Linked DNA regions of Homo sapiens: region 2 is linked to region 1. The links come from fine-mapping of genetic effects on gene expression. Tissue or cell type: whole blood. Region 1 holds a variant in brackets; the other region holds the start of a gene. All regions are shown on one strand. Distances are between the middles of the regions.

Region 1 (8,104 bases):
CATTCTTTTCTATCATAGCTTCCTGCTGATTACAAGAGAGCCCTCGTCTTCATTTTCTAACCCTAATCAGCTAGAAAATTCTCCCTGACTCTCTTCTGCCACAGTCCTCACTGGGCAGATTCTCAATGAGGAAATGTAAAGGAGGTCATTTTCAACGAGGCTGCAGGGAGAGGGTGTCTGCTTTGCCAGCTGTGTTCTAGTTGGAAGTTCCCAGGCATGTGTGACTTTAAAGTTAGGCAAGATAAACATTTTCTTTGCAACAATACAGCATTGACAGTGGGTCCAGCATTTTCAGTGATTCTTGCTGTCATGTGGGAACTCTTATTTCTGTTTTGTTTTTTTTTTTTGGAGACAGAGTCTCGCTCTGTCACCCAGGCTGGAGTGCAGTGGTGCAATCTCAGCTCACTGCAACCTCTGGCTCCCTTGTTCAAGCAATTCTCCTGCCTTAGCCTCCTGAGTAGCTGGGATTACAGGTGCACGCTGCCACGCCTGGCTATTTTTTTGTATTTTAGTAGAGACAAGGTTTCACCGTGTTGCCCAGGCTGGTCTCGAACTCCTGAGCTCCGGCAATCCACCTGCCTTGGCCTTCCAAAGTGCTAGGATTACAGGAGTGAGGCACCGCACCCAGCCAGGAACTCTAATTTCTAACTCTTGATATTTGCACTGTTAAGAAATGAGCATGATTAACGTAACTCCCGATGTCTCCTTTTCCTTCCATATGGAGGGAATTTTATTAGAAGTCTTTCTCTGCTCCTTTATTAAATCTCTCTGGGGGCGGAAGTGACTTATCTGATTGGCAAATATGAAAAAATGAAGCAGGCAGGCTGAGTTTGGTTCCTTGTCTTTATCTTGAGAGTGAACCTGTTTGTAGGAACATGAGTTCTCTGCTTCTCCACGTCCTAAAGCTAATCTGGGCAGACCCCTCTCCATATAGACCCAGTGTCCTGTCCCACTCCAGCTGCTGGGACGGGGTAGTTAAGTCAGTTCAACTTTAGGGTTTAAGTTTAGTAAGCCTACTTACCCAAGGATATAAGCCATGCCCTCCAACCTAGCCTTTGTGACAGCTTGATGTTTCATTCACCCCTTTTGGACAGTGAAGGGGTTGTCATTATTGAATTACACTCAAATACCCCAAGACTTGTAAGAGAAGGCAGTGGGCATGCATTGAATTCTCAGTCCTATCAATTAACTAGAGTGTGACTATGGATCTACCACCTGATCTTTCTGAACCCCATCTGTAAAATGATAGGAAAATCATTATGGAGAGTAATGATACCAGCATCATTGAGCAGGTGTGAGTATCAAATGAGTAATAAATACCAGATAGCTTGGCCAACTGTGATGACCTTTATAAAGTGAGCCATGCCTAAAAACACTGTAACAAGGTCTTTGGTAAACATATACAATGCACACATGCACGTAGAGATCCAAGCTATTTACATGACATCTGTTCACTTAGCGCTTCATAGATCATTGTCCACTTCATAGTCTTGGCTCTGGAACTAGCCCTAGCAAGACTTAGTAGCAGGTGAAGGCACCACTTTGTTGGATGTCACATGAATGTGGTGAGGTGGCTGACAGCATAGATTCTGATGCCAAACAGAACTAGTTTGTCTTCCAGGTCTGCCACTCACTAGCTGGGTGTCTGTGGGTGAATTACTTCATACTTCACTCTTCTTAGTCTTGACTTCTTCTTTTTTCTTTTTTTCTTTTTTTTTTTTTTTTGAGACGGAGTCTCGCTCTGTGGCCAGGCTGGAGTGCAGTGGCACAATCTCGGCTCACTGCAACCTCCGCCTGCCAGGTTCATGTGATTCTCCTGCCTCAGCCTCCCAAGTAGCTGAGACTACAGGTGCGTGTCACCATGCCCAGTTTAGTCTTGAATTCTTTGTCTGAAAAATAAGAATAATAATAACTGATGGTGATAATGAAACCTGCTTTGTAGGGTTATTATAAGGAGCAAATGAAGGAAGGCATGGGATGAATCCAATACAAGTTTGGGCACATCATAGGCATCTATTACATGCTAACAGGCATTATGATGTCTACCCACCACCTCCATCATGGCACCTATGACACACAACTCCCAGGCTGGTCCGGATTCTCACCATAGCTCCTTGTCTGAGCCCAGCCTCCTTCTTAGCCTTTGTAGCCCACTCCTCTCAGCAACTCATATGTTCTCAATTCCTCCAGTCAACCACCCCATCCCACCCCACCATGCCCTGTTTACCCCAAGCTCCTGGCAGATGAACAGGAACTATGCTCATTTATTTATTTATTCAGTAAGTGCATACTGGGCAACTCCTCCATGCCAAACCCTGGGTGGGAGTTGGGGTCACAGAGGCAAATCAGCCTCATTCTCCCATTCTTGAGGAGCTCACTCATGAGTGAGTAATGAACACAAATGGCTCCACTCCATGGCAAGATGTGAAGGGGAAACTCCAGAGGGACAGGCAGTGCCTTGTGAGCACAGGACATGGTTCTTTCCAAGGAGGTCACATTTAACTAGAACTTCAAAGGCAGGAGGTGCTGAGGAGGAGCTTGCAAAACAAAGGAAATGGTGAGGAAAAGTACTAAGATAAACAAAGGCATGGAGGAAGGAAATGACAAGGATTGTGAGATGAAAGGTTATAGCAATCCAGAGCCTAGAGTGCTTAGGAGGAGACCACCAAGAAGAACTTTGTAATCAGAGGTAAGGTTGGGCAGGTGAGTTGAAGTTAGGCTTTGCAGAGCCCTGGATTTTGTCCCCAGGACTCGCATGTGCTGTGGGAGTCCATTAAAGGTCTTTGCACCAGAGCATGCAGGAATGAGGGCAGCTCCTTAGGACAATGATGCAATCAAGTAGGAAGAATGGATTGTGGAAGGGTGGGGAGGACCAGAAACCTTCTGAAGACCAGTTGGCAGTAAGAGCATCATCACAGTTTTCTAACTTATACAAGAAGTGGCTACTGAGTTCCGTATGTCAGGCAGAACCTGTGTCTTTGGATAGGACACTTGAACCTTCCCGGGCCTCTGTTTCTTCATCTGTGAATGAAGGATGTCAATATTCAGGAACAAAGCCTATGCCTCTGGCGTCAGATCTTGGGCATGGGTTGTTCCTGCTGCTTTCTGGAGTCTTCTGCCGCCTTTGCGACGCACTCCCTAGGACCCTGCTCGGTCCAGCCAACTCTTCTGAACTTGAGGACTGACAATATCTCCTCATCCTTCCCCAAGCTCCACTAGATTGTCATGTCCTGAGGACAGAGGCAGACATGTCCATATCATCTGGACATGCCTAGTAGGTGCTTGCC[T/C]TGAAATTGAATGTCACGTGAATGTCAGCATTCTCTGAAAAGGCATATTCTCCAGTCAGATGAGGAGCCATGGGTGCCCGGGATTTCATCTATCGAGCCTTTACTTCATGCATAGAAACTGTGGCTGGGGTCTCTCTCTTTTTTTTTTTTTTTTTTTTGTCCTTATTTACAATTGTGATGTTTTTTATTTTATGAGTTTTTTTCTTTCCTTTTTTTTTTTTAATCATATTTTAAGTTCTAGGGTACACATGCACAACGTGCAGGTTTGTTACATATGTATACATGTGCCACGTTGGTGTGCTGCATTAACTCGTCATTTACATTAGGTATATCTCCTAATGCTATCCCTCCCCTGTCCCCCCACCCCACAACAGGCCCCGGTGTGTGATGTTCCCCTTCCTGTGTTCAAGTGTTCTCATTGTTCAATTCCCACCTATGAGTGAAAACATGCAGTGTTTGGTTTTTTGTTCTTGCAATAGTTTGCTGAGAATGATGGTTTTGGCTGGGGTCTTTAATGACCTTTGCTTAGCCCTCCAAGAGGCTTAGGAAATGGATGTTTGTGCTCTCATGTTCCCAATGACCAAGCTGAGGGCCAGAAAGATAAGGCATTTGCCTAAGGTCACAAAGTAAGGACACAGCAGAGCTGGGACCAAACACAGATGGGGCTGTCTCCTCACCAGTATTCTTTCAGCTACATCCCACATCAGACTCACATTGGCCCCCATCCCCACCCAGCACCTCTCATTCTCTAGGGCTTTTGAGTGGCCCCTGCATATCTCAGGATCCTCAGCATGATGGTTCTCCCCACCTCAAAGAGAATGGCAGCAACATGATCTGGGGATGAATTAGCACATGAATGCATCTCGTCCATCACCCACTCCCAAAGGAAAAACAAAATATTAAACATGCTCTGTGTGCCCTTTCCTATCCTGGTGGAGAACAACAATTAAAACTTCTCATTGCAGGAGTTGCCCTAGAGAAAAATGAAAGGAAATTGAATGTGAAAATGAGGGGAGAGCGGGATCTCCATAGAGGATCTGGGTAACTTCAAGACTATTCAGAGAGACGATCATTTTAAAGCAGGCTTAGCTGGCAGTCTTCAGATGAAAACTCAAGAGCAAGCCCAAAACATTTCTGGAATGGTCAGTGAACAAAGGCTTTTCTAATATAAAATAAGTATGTGTGTGTATATATATATGTGTATATATATATGTGTGTGTGTGTATATATGTCTACAAACACACATATATACTTATATATGTTATATATAAACACATATACATATATAAACGTGTATACATATATACTTACATATAAGGGTTTATAAACTTACAAGTGTTTTATATATATAAATACTTATATGTATGTTCTTGTGTATATACAGACACTTATAGAAATGCTTTCTAACTTAAAACATAAGAGATGTTCATTAAAGAAAATCCTGGAAGTAAAAAAGGAGAAATCTTCTTTGGTCCTACCCCCTTGCTTCTTTCCCTTGCCTGGTAAACAGGTTGTATTAGTCTATTCTTGTATTGCTATAAAAGATACCCAAGACTGGGTAATTTATAAAGAAAAGAGGTTTAATTCCCTCATGATTCTGCAGGCTGCACAGGAAGCATAGCGGCTTATTGGGAGGCCTCAGGAAACTTTTAATCATGGTGGAAGGTAAAGAGGAAGCAGGTATGTCTCACATGGCTGTAGCAGAAGGAAAAGCCCAGGTCGGGGGTGCCATATGCCTTTAAATCACCAGATCTCCTGGGAACTCTATTACAAGAACAGCACTAGGGGGATGTGTTAAACCAGGAGAAATTGCCCCCATTATCCAATCACCTACCACTGGGTCCCACCTCCAGCACTGGGGATTGCATTTCAACTTGAGGTCTGGGTGGGGACACAGATCCAGGCCATACCACAGGTCCTCTCCAAAAGAGAGTCCAAAAGGTAACAACTGATTCCCTTCATTCCATTTATTTTTTCACATACTCAAAACTATGACTTCATAGGGAAAGGAGGTGTTTAGTTAGCACCTACAATGTGCCAGGCAAGTGGCATTGCTTTGCCTTTGCTACCTCATTTAATTCTCACAGCAATGCTGGGAGGTCAGTATCATTATCCGTGTTTTAGGGTTGAGGAAACTAAAACTCAGAGTGGTTCAGAAACGTACTCAAGTCACACAGCTTCCAAGCGGTGAAGCTGAGATTCCCACTTGGCTCTAACTACAGGCCCCCCATTACCTCAAAGGAAGCAATGTGGAAAAACATGAAGACTTGGCTGCCACTCCCAATTGCTCCCAGCGTTACAGGGCAGGTGAGATGTGCATGGCATTGACCAGAAGCCCAGACAAAATGCTGTAACTGTATGAAGTTTCATTAAAATCCTTTGCGAATGTACAAAAGGAGCATATTACTTTTAGTTGGAGAGAGGCAAACGGAGATTAGATTAATGGAAGGGGTGACATTTGAACTGGTCCTAAAAAAGGGGGTGGGATTTTAAAGGGCATACTGGGGGAGGTAGAAGACTTTCTAGGCAGAAGTAACAGCCTGAAGAAAGAAAAAGAGTTAGAACACTCAGAAGCCATGGACAGGAGATAGACTCCTTCGGCTGGAACTTGAAGATGTGTGAATAGAAGATACAGACAATGAAGCTGGAAATGAGGTTGGAAGCAGATACTGAAGGGCATAGAATGCTTGGTTAAGGGTTCGAACTTCTGTTGTTGAGCAGAAAAATGGTATGCTCTGAGTAACAGTTTAAGGGAATCACTGTAGGAGCACCTTGAAGGCAGAATGGAGGGAGTGGGGGCAGCTTTCCATGGTAGGAAAACCAGGCAGGCTGCAGTTACTGTAACAGAGCAGAGGCCCATGAGGGTGAAGTGGTAATAGTATTGGGGAGACACGAAGAGGAGAGCACTGGACTGTGAGATATATCAAAGATAGAAATGATGAGGCTTGTGTTGGGGAGATTTCTGACTTGAGTTATTGAATAGGTGGTGGGCCATTAACTGGGAGAGGGAGCACAGGAAGGGAAGCAGGCTTCAGGGACAATGCAATGAAATCAATTTTTGTCCAGTTGAGTTCACGGTGATTGTGTGACATCTGGGTGAGATGTTGAGTGAGTAGGTGGAGGTATACCTCAAGCACTGGAGATGCTGGCTGACACCTTCCAGCACATTATATCGCAAACCCAGCGGGGGCCTTGGAAGTCATCTATTCTAGCCTCATCATCCCTGCAGCAGGCCCTGCAACACCTATGCCTCCAATTCATTGACCTTTCAGTATCTATTCTCTGAGCCACTTCCTTTACTTCCTCATCCCTGGGACCTTCCTCCCTCTGAAGTCATAATGTCTAGTATTAGATACTCTGATCTAACTATCCCATCTTCTCAAGACTTTATTTCATATTGGCCTTATCAGCACTCTTCCCCCTTCAGCCTGTCCTTTTTCTCCCAGTCTTTGGGATTGTTTGTGCCCATTTTTCATCCCTCTGGTGCTTTTACTCCACATGGACTTTCTAAGCCATTCTTTCACCAACATCCTTAATTCCCTTGCTCCTCTCTTGTGCCCTGCAACCAGCTGATGAAACTCCATCACTCCATCAATGCAGTGCCCCACCTTCTCTATTTCTATGCTAGATTGCCAAGCATGAGGAAAATCATGCAACTACATTGATCAAATATACTAAAATTAATGGTCTTTCCTCAGTTGGGCTCCCTACTCTGTTGTCAAAACCTTCCACTTGTCCTTTTTCAACTCTCTAATTCCATCTTTGCTCTTGTTGTTCCATAAATTGTCCCGTCTTTTCCTGCACCTCAGCCTCCCCTTCTTCACTGGCTCCATACTTAGATCTTTCTCACTTCAGTTGTCATCCCATCTCTCATATTTTTCTCTTCCCAACTTGTCAAAGGACTTGCCTTCCATGACATTCACTGACTTCCATTCACTTCCAAGCCCATTAAAATCAGCCTTCCTTCCCACTGCCCTCCTGGAACCACTCTCAGAAAGGTATCAGGGAGCTTCCAACAGCCAATGGCCACATCCTTCCTCCATGCCTCATCTCACTATGCCTGTCTCTTAGATTTGACTCTGTGAGTCACTGTACTTTTCTTAAATCTCCTACCACCATGACTTCTATGGAGCAACAGCTTCTGGTTTATCTCATACCACTTTCATTCTTTCTCAAAATTCTTCATAGGTACCTCCTCCTCTTTCTGCCCCTTGAAGTTATTCCTTAACGTTTTAGTAGTAGACCATGACTCTTTTAACTTTACACATACGCTTGTCTGGGGGCTCTTATTCAAATCACCAACTAAATACAGACAACTCCAAAGACTGTATCATCAACCCGAACTTCTTCCATGAGCCAGACTCAAATCTATCTGCATACCTGATCTATTCCTTGACATACCATTGACTCCTCAAAGTCAACATATCAAAGTGCTCTTTCTCTTAGTTGATGACATGACCATCAACCTGATTTAACCTGGAAGTCATCCTTGACTCTTCCTTCCCTCACTCATCACATCCAATAGATTTCCAGGTTCTGATTGTTTTATGTCCTAAATGTCTCTGAAACTGCTTACTTCCTAATATCTCCTAGTGCTCTGTGTATCCTTAGCATCTCTCCCCTGAATTCCTGTAACCCTTGCTTCACTGGTCTCCTATACACAGCCTTGTTTCCTTCAAATCCATTCTCCACACTGTTAAAGATAAATCCTATAGAATCACTCTCTTCTTTAAGACCTTTCAAAGACCCTGGATTGCCCATAAGCAGTGTTTACCAAAGCGGTTTTTTTAAAAATGGCTTTTCAGAATGTTAAAAAT
Region 2 (8,104 bases), 120 kb before region 1:
CAAACGTACACACCCATTGCATATATGTAAACCCAGACCCAGCAAATGGAAATAATTTGCCCAAGGCCACAAAGCCAATGAACAACTGAGTCGGGAATAAACCCCAGGTTTCCTGGCCTACGGAAGCTGTTGTTTTCCTCACACTCCGATCAGTCCAGGTGTGCATCCTCACTGATGCAGAAATGCCACAGCACTCAGGCTGTGTCCCCATGATGCTAAGTGTGGCAGCTGCAATCATGAGGGCATGGTCTCAAGCCCTGACTTAGAAGAGTAAGCAAACAAGGGAAATGTCTCATCACTGTTATTTACTTACGATACATAACCCTCTTGTTCTCCCAAAAGAAATCCAAGGCACTTAAAACATATTTTAACATGAGGCCATTATATGTATGGTGTGGAAGAGTTCAGCTTAGAGATCTTACAGAAAAAAAAAAACTGGATTTAAGACAAAGAAAAACTGAAAAGGAAGAATTTATTCTCGATGGCTTATTTTCACACGGGGAGAAAAAAGGCAAAAAATATGAGAAAACTAATGAATTAAAAAATAAATATCAGTAACAAGAGTAATGTTTTGTGATGTAATCCAGCTTTGGCTATGAGTAGTATGATCTATGACACAAAAATCGTTATTTCATAATTACCTCAGCATTTTCAAAAGCAACTTAATGAAGATTGTTTCTCTGCATTCATTTTTATTCAAAACCTTACCAGTTAATCATGAGAAGCTAAAACACACAATGCTGGGAGATTAATATCCCTACATAAGATGCATTATTTTTCCTTTGCAGATCCCTATGAGCCTGTCAAAAATGAAAGCTTTGCTCTGGTTTTGTGAATTTCAAACAGTCACAAAACCCGCTGAGAGCCGAGTTTCTGGGAAAAAGGTGGGACATGCCCGTTTCATTTGGGATTCGGCAACACTTTAAGAGGTTCATTAATCCACATCTTAAAAAGACCAATGACAACCCCATTAACGACCCATAGGTCAAAGTGATGGATTTAGCTCTAATCCACAGCCAAAAACTAACTCAGGGTCTGAACATCCTTCAGCCCACCTTCCCTGTCCCAGCCCCTCTGCAGCCAAGCTAAGGCCGGCTCCACGCATCGCTAATATACTCAGCAAACAATGCAGTTGGAAGAGTCTAAAAAAAAAATCACTTTATTTATTTGCAGTAATTGTTTGTGCTGGGAATGTTTTACCTATGCAAATATGATTGATTATTTTTGGAGGGGCAGGAAAAGCTCACCAGCTTGCTGCTTTCTAGCCTGCTGGGCATCTTCTTAATGCATTGTATGTCATCAGTTCTTAGGAGCTAATGTCATCTCTCCTACTGAAAGGCCTAACCTATCCCACAACCCCAATCTGGTAGCTTGGAACATTTTATAGCCACTATGTGTTAGCCCAGTAAATAATCTATTAAGCACAGCTCGAGCTTCACCTCTTTTGGGCTGAACCTGAATCTCACAGCTCCCTGGAAACCAAGTCCTCTTCTTGGAAATCAACAACCCATTCAGTGTAGAATGTTCGTCCAAATGACTGGACTAAGACATCCTAGCTCAAGCCTGTAACTTACTAGTTTTGTCACTCAGAATCATTTAGCTGAAGGGGGTCTGAAGGGCTGGTCAGTCCACCCTTGCTCTTTACTAACAGAGACACAGAGGCCCCTACTGCTAAGGGACTTTCTCTGCACCAACACAAATGTACGTGTAGACAACTGAGCTCAACACTGTGACTTCACCAATGGAACAAGCCCCTCAGACCAGGATCAATTGATTCCAGGTGGCTTGCCCCTTCAGGAACTAAATGCACTTAAGCAAACAGTTAACTAAATGCACTTAAGCAAACAGTTAACTAAATGCACTTAAGCAAACAGCTAACAGCGGCAAGCCAGAGAACTGGGGGCATGCATCAGGCATCGTATCTGCATTAAAACTCCTTTTCTTTGGGGCTCAGAAGTGTTTGGGGCTCAGAAGTTCTGCTGACACTGAGGGCTGGCAAATATGAGCCAACACTGGGCCAGCCCCTGCACAGTGGCCATCTGGGATCAGCCCCCGCTCCGGTTAAGTAATCATCTCCAAGATTTACAAAACCAGGGGCAGGTAACCTTGATGAGCCCTGCCCCCAGGGAAAGGTTAAGGATGCAGTTCTGAGGCCTAGCATGTGCTGGGCACACAGGAGGAACCACTGTCCTTTCCATCCTTCAGGAGGACTGGGAAAACAGAACCCCAGGAAAGAGAACACCTAGGAAAACATATTATCCTCTCACCTGAACTAAAAAGTAGAGTACACATTAGGGGTTGGCAGCAGCGTGATGGCAGGATGGACAAAAAGTGCTTGCTACAGGCAATTTATTTCATCAGAACAGATACTCATTGGAGCAAGTATTTTCACACACACGCAATGACTCTCGAGACGGAAGCAGTTAGTAGAAGAAATGAGACAGGTGTGTTTGTTACAAAGGGAACAGTCTGGCAGGGAAGTAGGGTACCCTGGTTTCCAATCCTGGTCTCCCACTTCCTAACCTTGTGACCTTGATTAAGTCATTCAACCTCTCTAAGCCTCAGTTTCCTCATCTGGGCCAAGGAGAAACGGGGACCTATTTCCCAGAGCGGCTTTGAGGCACACTGCCCGGCACGGCCTGGACACCCACTAAATAAGAGTTGTTGCCCCCAAATGCTAAGTCTGAACCTAGCTGCATACACATGCCGTTATCTAGACCAGACAGGTCTCCCGCCTGCATGTCAAACCCACATCTTTCTCCAGAAGGCAGAAGAAAGCACCAGGTCTGCCCGGGCAGTTCAGCCTCCAGGCGGGGCTTCGGGGCAGGGGAAATTGAACGATTCAATCGGAAGCCCCGAATGTTTCCAGGCTGTAAGTGGGGAAGGAGGGTAGGACAGGGGCCCTGAGGCGGCCTCCGGGCCCTGCGAAGGGAGCTTTGTTCGCGAGGCGGAGGGCCTGGCTTACCGAGAAGCGCATCCGGAGGCGGTTGAGGGGCGCGCGGGGCACGCAGCAGAGCCGCAGCCCGGCCCGGACCCGGAGCGCCGGAGCCGCAGGAAGGCGAGGAGAAGGAAAAAAAGGAGGCTGCCGCCGGCTCCTGCCTCATTCTCCCGGGCAGCGTTGACCCGCTGGCCGCCGCCGGATAGGGCTGGCCGCCGGGCGCGGGACCCCGTGCGCGCTGCTCATGTCCCCGTCTGCCGCTGGCTAGGTGTGCGCGCAGCCTGCTGGTCTCTGGGCGGCACCCGGGGGCTCCTCATGCCCCGCGCCGGGGCTCGGCGGGAGGACCTCGGAGAGGCAGCGCGGAGGGAAAGAGAGAGAGACAGCATGAGAACGCGCAGAGCTGCACCCCGCGGGGGCCGGGCGCCAGCAGCACCGCGCTGCCCCACCCACGGCGCGTCTGCTCCCCGCGCTGCGCGCCCAGCGGGGCGCCGAGCCCCAGAAACTTTAGCACATGGCCGGTCCGGCGGCCACGGTGGCCGTAGCTGCCCTGCTCTTCGAGCGCCCCCCACTGCTTCCTGCCCCAAGCCCCAGAGCGCAGCTTACCAGCGGCGACCGCGACCGCAGCGGCGGGGCGCCCACCCGGCCGCAAGCACAGCAGTGCGCACCTGCGGGAAAGGAGGAAGGGGCTGGCGGCGTCGGGGTCCCTACAGGGGAGGGGCACCTCGGCGGCAGCAATCGGCGCAGGTTAAGGCATTCTGGGCCGGGGCTGCGCGCGAGCCAGGTGGTGGCAGGCCGGGATTGGGGAGGGTCTCTGCGCCCCCCGCCCCGCGGCGCCGCTGCTGATGACGCGCGCGGGCTTCCCCGGCCCCGCGTCTGCGGAGCCAGCCCCGTTACCTAGCGACTCGCTCCGGGGAGCCCCCGCTGACGCGCGCTGCGAGCCGGGCTGCGGCAGCCGAGGGGCGGGGAGGGAGGGGAGGGGGAGCTCCAGTGCGGGGAGGGCCGGCGGCTGCGGGCCAAGCTCCTCCCTCCGCTTCCCTCTCCGCGTTGGGGAGGGGGCCCGGGAAAGACGTGGCCTCCGCCTGGCCCTGGAGGATGGGAGGCCTTCGCGGGGCGGGGGGGACGGAGGGAGGCACTGAGTGCCCCTGTCCCCGCAGTGGGGATGCAGCAGCAGGTGGCGGCTATGTGGCCTGTGGAGGCTCGGCACCCAGAGGCGCGCGGTGAGCCCGCCCCGGCGGGAGCGTGGCGAATGTGGCTTTGGGCGCGCGGGTGTGTGGGACACGCTCCCACCCACGTGGCGTACATGGGGACCTGGGGACGCGGGTGAAAGAGGCGCCTCCTCCTTCCTCTGGTCTCTCTCCCTCCTTCCTGGACATTTTGCTCCTGCGCTGTCTCTTTCTTCATCATGGAAGCCCAGGTTGCTCCGTTCCCCACTCCCAGCTCCTTATATCTTCCAGGGAACAGGCGGATGGCCTGGCAGCTGAAGGTAGTTAAGTCGTGGTCAAACCACTATACCCCCAATCCCTGCCGCCCTTTGGCGCCTCCCCAGCCCATCCCCATGTCCAGTTGCCCGCCTTGTAGGCCCTCTAACCTGCCTCGGGGCGCCTTCCACTTTCTTGGAAGACTTGGGACCTCTGACACAGACTGGGGTTCAAATCCAGGCCCCTCCAATTGCTTTCAGTACACAGGACATTTTAACGTCTTCAGGAAGATGGAGTCCTTGTCTCCAAAGGTCATAGCTAAGTACTAGTACCTAAGGCCTTCCATGAATGTGAACATGATTTTCTAGAAGATAAGCAGCCTGTCTCCTGGTTCTCTGGGACCTCACCAAAATCCACCCCAACGTCCAGGGAAGTAAGGCAAGTGCCGGGAAACATGGTCAGAGCAAGCAGCGACCATGGTCTCTATCGACGAGGAGGCAAATTGCCCAGGTCTGCTGGGTGCCTCAGAAGCAGAGCTGGGGGAAGAACCCAGACATCCTGGTTAGCAGGTTCCCAGGGCCCACCGCTGTGCCCCTTCCCCAGTTGGATGGTGCAAGGAACCTTCTGCCCCTACTTCTCAGAAGATCCTCCTGCCTACCAAAAGGCTGCTTCCCTCCCATCCCTGCTACAGAATAGGAATCACCTACCACCTCGTCCACAACACCAACCCATACCCTCCCTAGCTGGCCTTTCTGTCTTCCTCATGGTATGGATGTGGGGAGAAAGATGCAGAGGAGAGACTCAGCAGAGATTTAGGGGAATCAGGCCTGCCCAGGAACACCCACACCCCAGCCCTGCAGCTCTACAGGACAGAGTCCCTCCATGAGGGGCTTTGGGAAACAGCAGAGTCTGAGTGGTTTTTGTTGGCTTAGTGACAAGACATTTCCTCCAATTATTATTATTATTGAGATGCCAGTAACTCCTATTGAAAAACCCTGCAAGTCCATGGAAACAGAAACCTGTGTCTTAAGAAACCAGGGTCCAAAGGCCACACTTTTCTGAGAAAAGCACTTTGCATCCCAGCCTGTGTATAACAGTTGCATTCCAACATTTTCCGGCGAAATTGGGAGCAATATCTCTGAATTTCCCAACCAGTTATTATGGGTAGTTGCAGACAGGGAGGTGGTCCCCAGAAACTCCAGAAGAACTATTTCTGTGTGCCAAATTGGCTGCCGGCTCTTTCTTCAGCCCCAATTTCCCAATCTGCAGGTAGAGTTTGACACCTAATTTGGTCAGGGAGCCCAGTGCTTACAATAAATGAAACCTCAGAGCTTGGATTCCATGCGTCCCACTATTCCAGGAAACAAAGCAGCCTGTAAGGAAGTGCGATTTGACGGCACAAGTGTCTCATTCATGGTTTGCAGAGATTTGAAAAATGTTGTTTAAGCATAGCAAAAGCTGGCACATACATCTTTTATTGGTGTGTGTATGCATGGGGAAAAAGGCAGCAGGGAAGACTCCTACATTGCATATTCATTCTTCATGTTTTTCTCAAATAATAGGAAGTGGGGAGTGCACAGGAAAGCCAGGATTGAGGAAGCCCATGATCCCTGTGGCCACACAGGGATTGTTCCTCAGCAATGCAGTGGAAGAACATCACCCTAAATTTGTAAGGAGTATCTACTGAAGTCAGGCACAGTGTTAGGCACCAGGGATGCAAAAATGACTTACATAAGTCCTCTGTCTTCTGGGTCCTCATAGGGGCTTTTACTGAGGGCTTAACCCATGCCAGGAACTCCAGGTACCAAGAGTTTTATCTAGGAAAGCTCATTTTAACCTCACCAAACCCTGTAAAGTGGGTCCATTATCTTTGCTTGGGAAGGGAAGCTCAAAAAGGTTATGTAAGTTCCCTAAAGTCATGAAGCTGGCAAATGATGGACTTGGGGATTTGTAACCCAGTCTTCCTAACCCCAAGCCCAAGTTCCTAACTTCCTATACTGTCTGCCAGGCTAAAGGAAAAAAAGAACAATAGTAACATAGGTAGTGGCTGCTTGAGACTTAGGACTGCCAATGAGATGTGTGCGTGGAGTCTCCAGCATAGTTCCTGGAACAGAGTGAGCTATTGATAAAAAGATAGTTATTATCATCGCTAGACCCTCATAGTTGTTGTGTGAATTTTTATGCCCTATCTTATAGAGGTTACCAAATACTATTCTTGGAGGCATAGAGGAAAGTGACTATACCTATCTGCAGGGACTGCAGCTGGCTGCCCAGAGGAGGTGGCATCTGAATTGGGTCCCCAAGGATCCGTAAATATTGGCCAGGTGATAAGGCAGAAGCAAGAACAAGCTAATCAGGAGGAATACGCAGGGGAAATCCCAGAGCTGGTAACAAGCAGCTCTTGTGTGCAGGAGCTGAGAGAGACCCAAGGCAGGTAGACAAGAAGTTGAAGACATGGAGCAAGTCCTAGGGATGCTGAAAGACACAGGTGGAAGAAAAGTCTCAAAAGTGCAGGGACTGCCCTTCTTTTGAGCTCTCAGGGAGGCAAGTAGAGAGGGAGCTAGGGGAGCCCATGCCTCCTGTTAGTGCTGGTTTCCTCCCTGAAGAAGCAGGCAAGGCCATCTGCTGAGTCTGGCCTATGGGGTGGTGAGTGTGAGACAGTGGAGCAGGTAGCTGTAAGAGGATCCAGCCTCCAGACAGCTACCCAAGCCAAGACTTAGTGGCTGTGCTTGACTGAGTCTCCTCCCATCATTCATAAGGACGGTGGGGTCCTGATCCCTACCAGCCTCCACACTTTGCAGGGACGTGGCAAGGCACACAGTATACTTCACCAGTCCCTCTGTGTGAGAGGGCTTGGCAATCGGTAGTGAGTGTAATGTTTGCATGAGACACATAAATAGTACATCTGTTTCCAGCTTTTTGCAGATATTGGCCTATTGCATCCACAATCTATTCATTCATTTGTGCAGTCATTCATTTAATAAGTGTTAATTGAGCACTTATTAGGTCATGTGGTTGCACAAAAGAGAGGCCCTTCCTTGGATCTAGGAGATTGAGGAAGCCTTCCTGGGGTGAGGGGGACTTCTAAAATGAGTCTGAAAGATAAGTGGGAGTCAATCAAATGAAAGGGAAATGGTTTGGGGGTTGGGGAGCAGAAATATTTCAAGTCCAGGAGCAGCACTTGCAAAGACTTTCGAATACTGAAAAATTAGAGCCCACTGAGAAAGGTCAAACCTAATTGTTCCTTTTAGAGAAGAAACACTGTGTGAAGTGCAGTCAGACAGGTGTATGATATTGGGTTGGGGGTAGTAGGACCCAAGAGAGAGAAAGGACTTCCTTAGAAATGGCTCAGGAAAGATTGGAAGCATCCTTCCTTTCTAAAAATTAGTATCTCTACTGTTAATGACTTTTTATTTTTTTACAGTGCTCTGAGGTTTTCAAAACGTCTCATTTCCCACATTTCATTGGCTCTTATCATGTACATGGGGGTTTGATCTGGAGGATTCCTCAGTCTCCAAGCTGATACCTGACGGACCCTGTGACTTGAACCTGGGACTTCCTCCTGGGTGGTCTGGTCCTGCTAATTTTTTTTTTTTTTTTTTTTTTGAGATGGAGTCTCGCTCTGTCACCTAGGCTGGAGTGCAGTGGCATGATCTCGGCTCACTGCAAGCTCCGCCTCCCAGGTTCACGCCATTCTCCTGCCTCAGCTCCCGAGTAGCTGGGACTACAGGCGCCCGCCACCACGCCC

What was found. PIP is the estimated chance that this variant, and not a neighbour inherited with it, causes the effect.
Region 2: TUNAR starts here. The variant in region 1 is fine-mapped to the expression of TUNAR in whole blood (TOPMed, PIP above 0.99).

What each region holds. Positions count from the first base shown.
Region 1 is chr14:95,749,030-95,757,133 of GRCh38, reverse strand. LOC107984703 (a long non-coding RNA gene) reads right to left here. Exons shown (of 3, transcript NR_148060.1): 3 at 355-1,889. Among named protein-coding and RNA genes, the nearest start is that of TCL1A, 39 kb to the right of the region's middle. The variant T/C (reference allele first, on the strand shown) is at 3,288.
Region 2 is chr14:95,872,039-95,880,142 of GRCh38, reverse strand. TUNAR (transmembrane neural differentiation associated intracellular calcium regulator) reads right to left here and starts at 3,311. Exons shown (of 2, transcript NM_001416131.1): 1 at 2,966-3,311. The coding sequence starts at 2,977.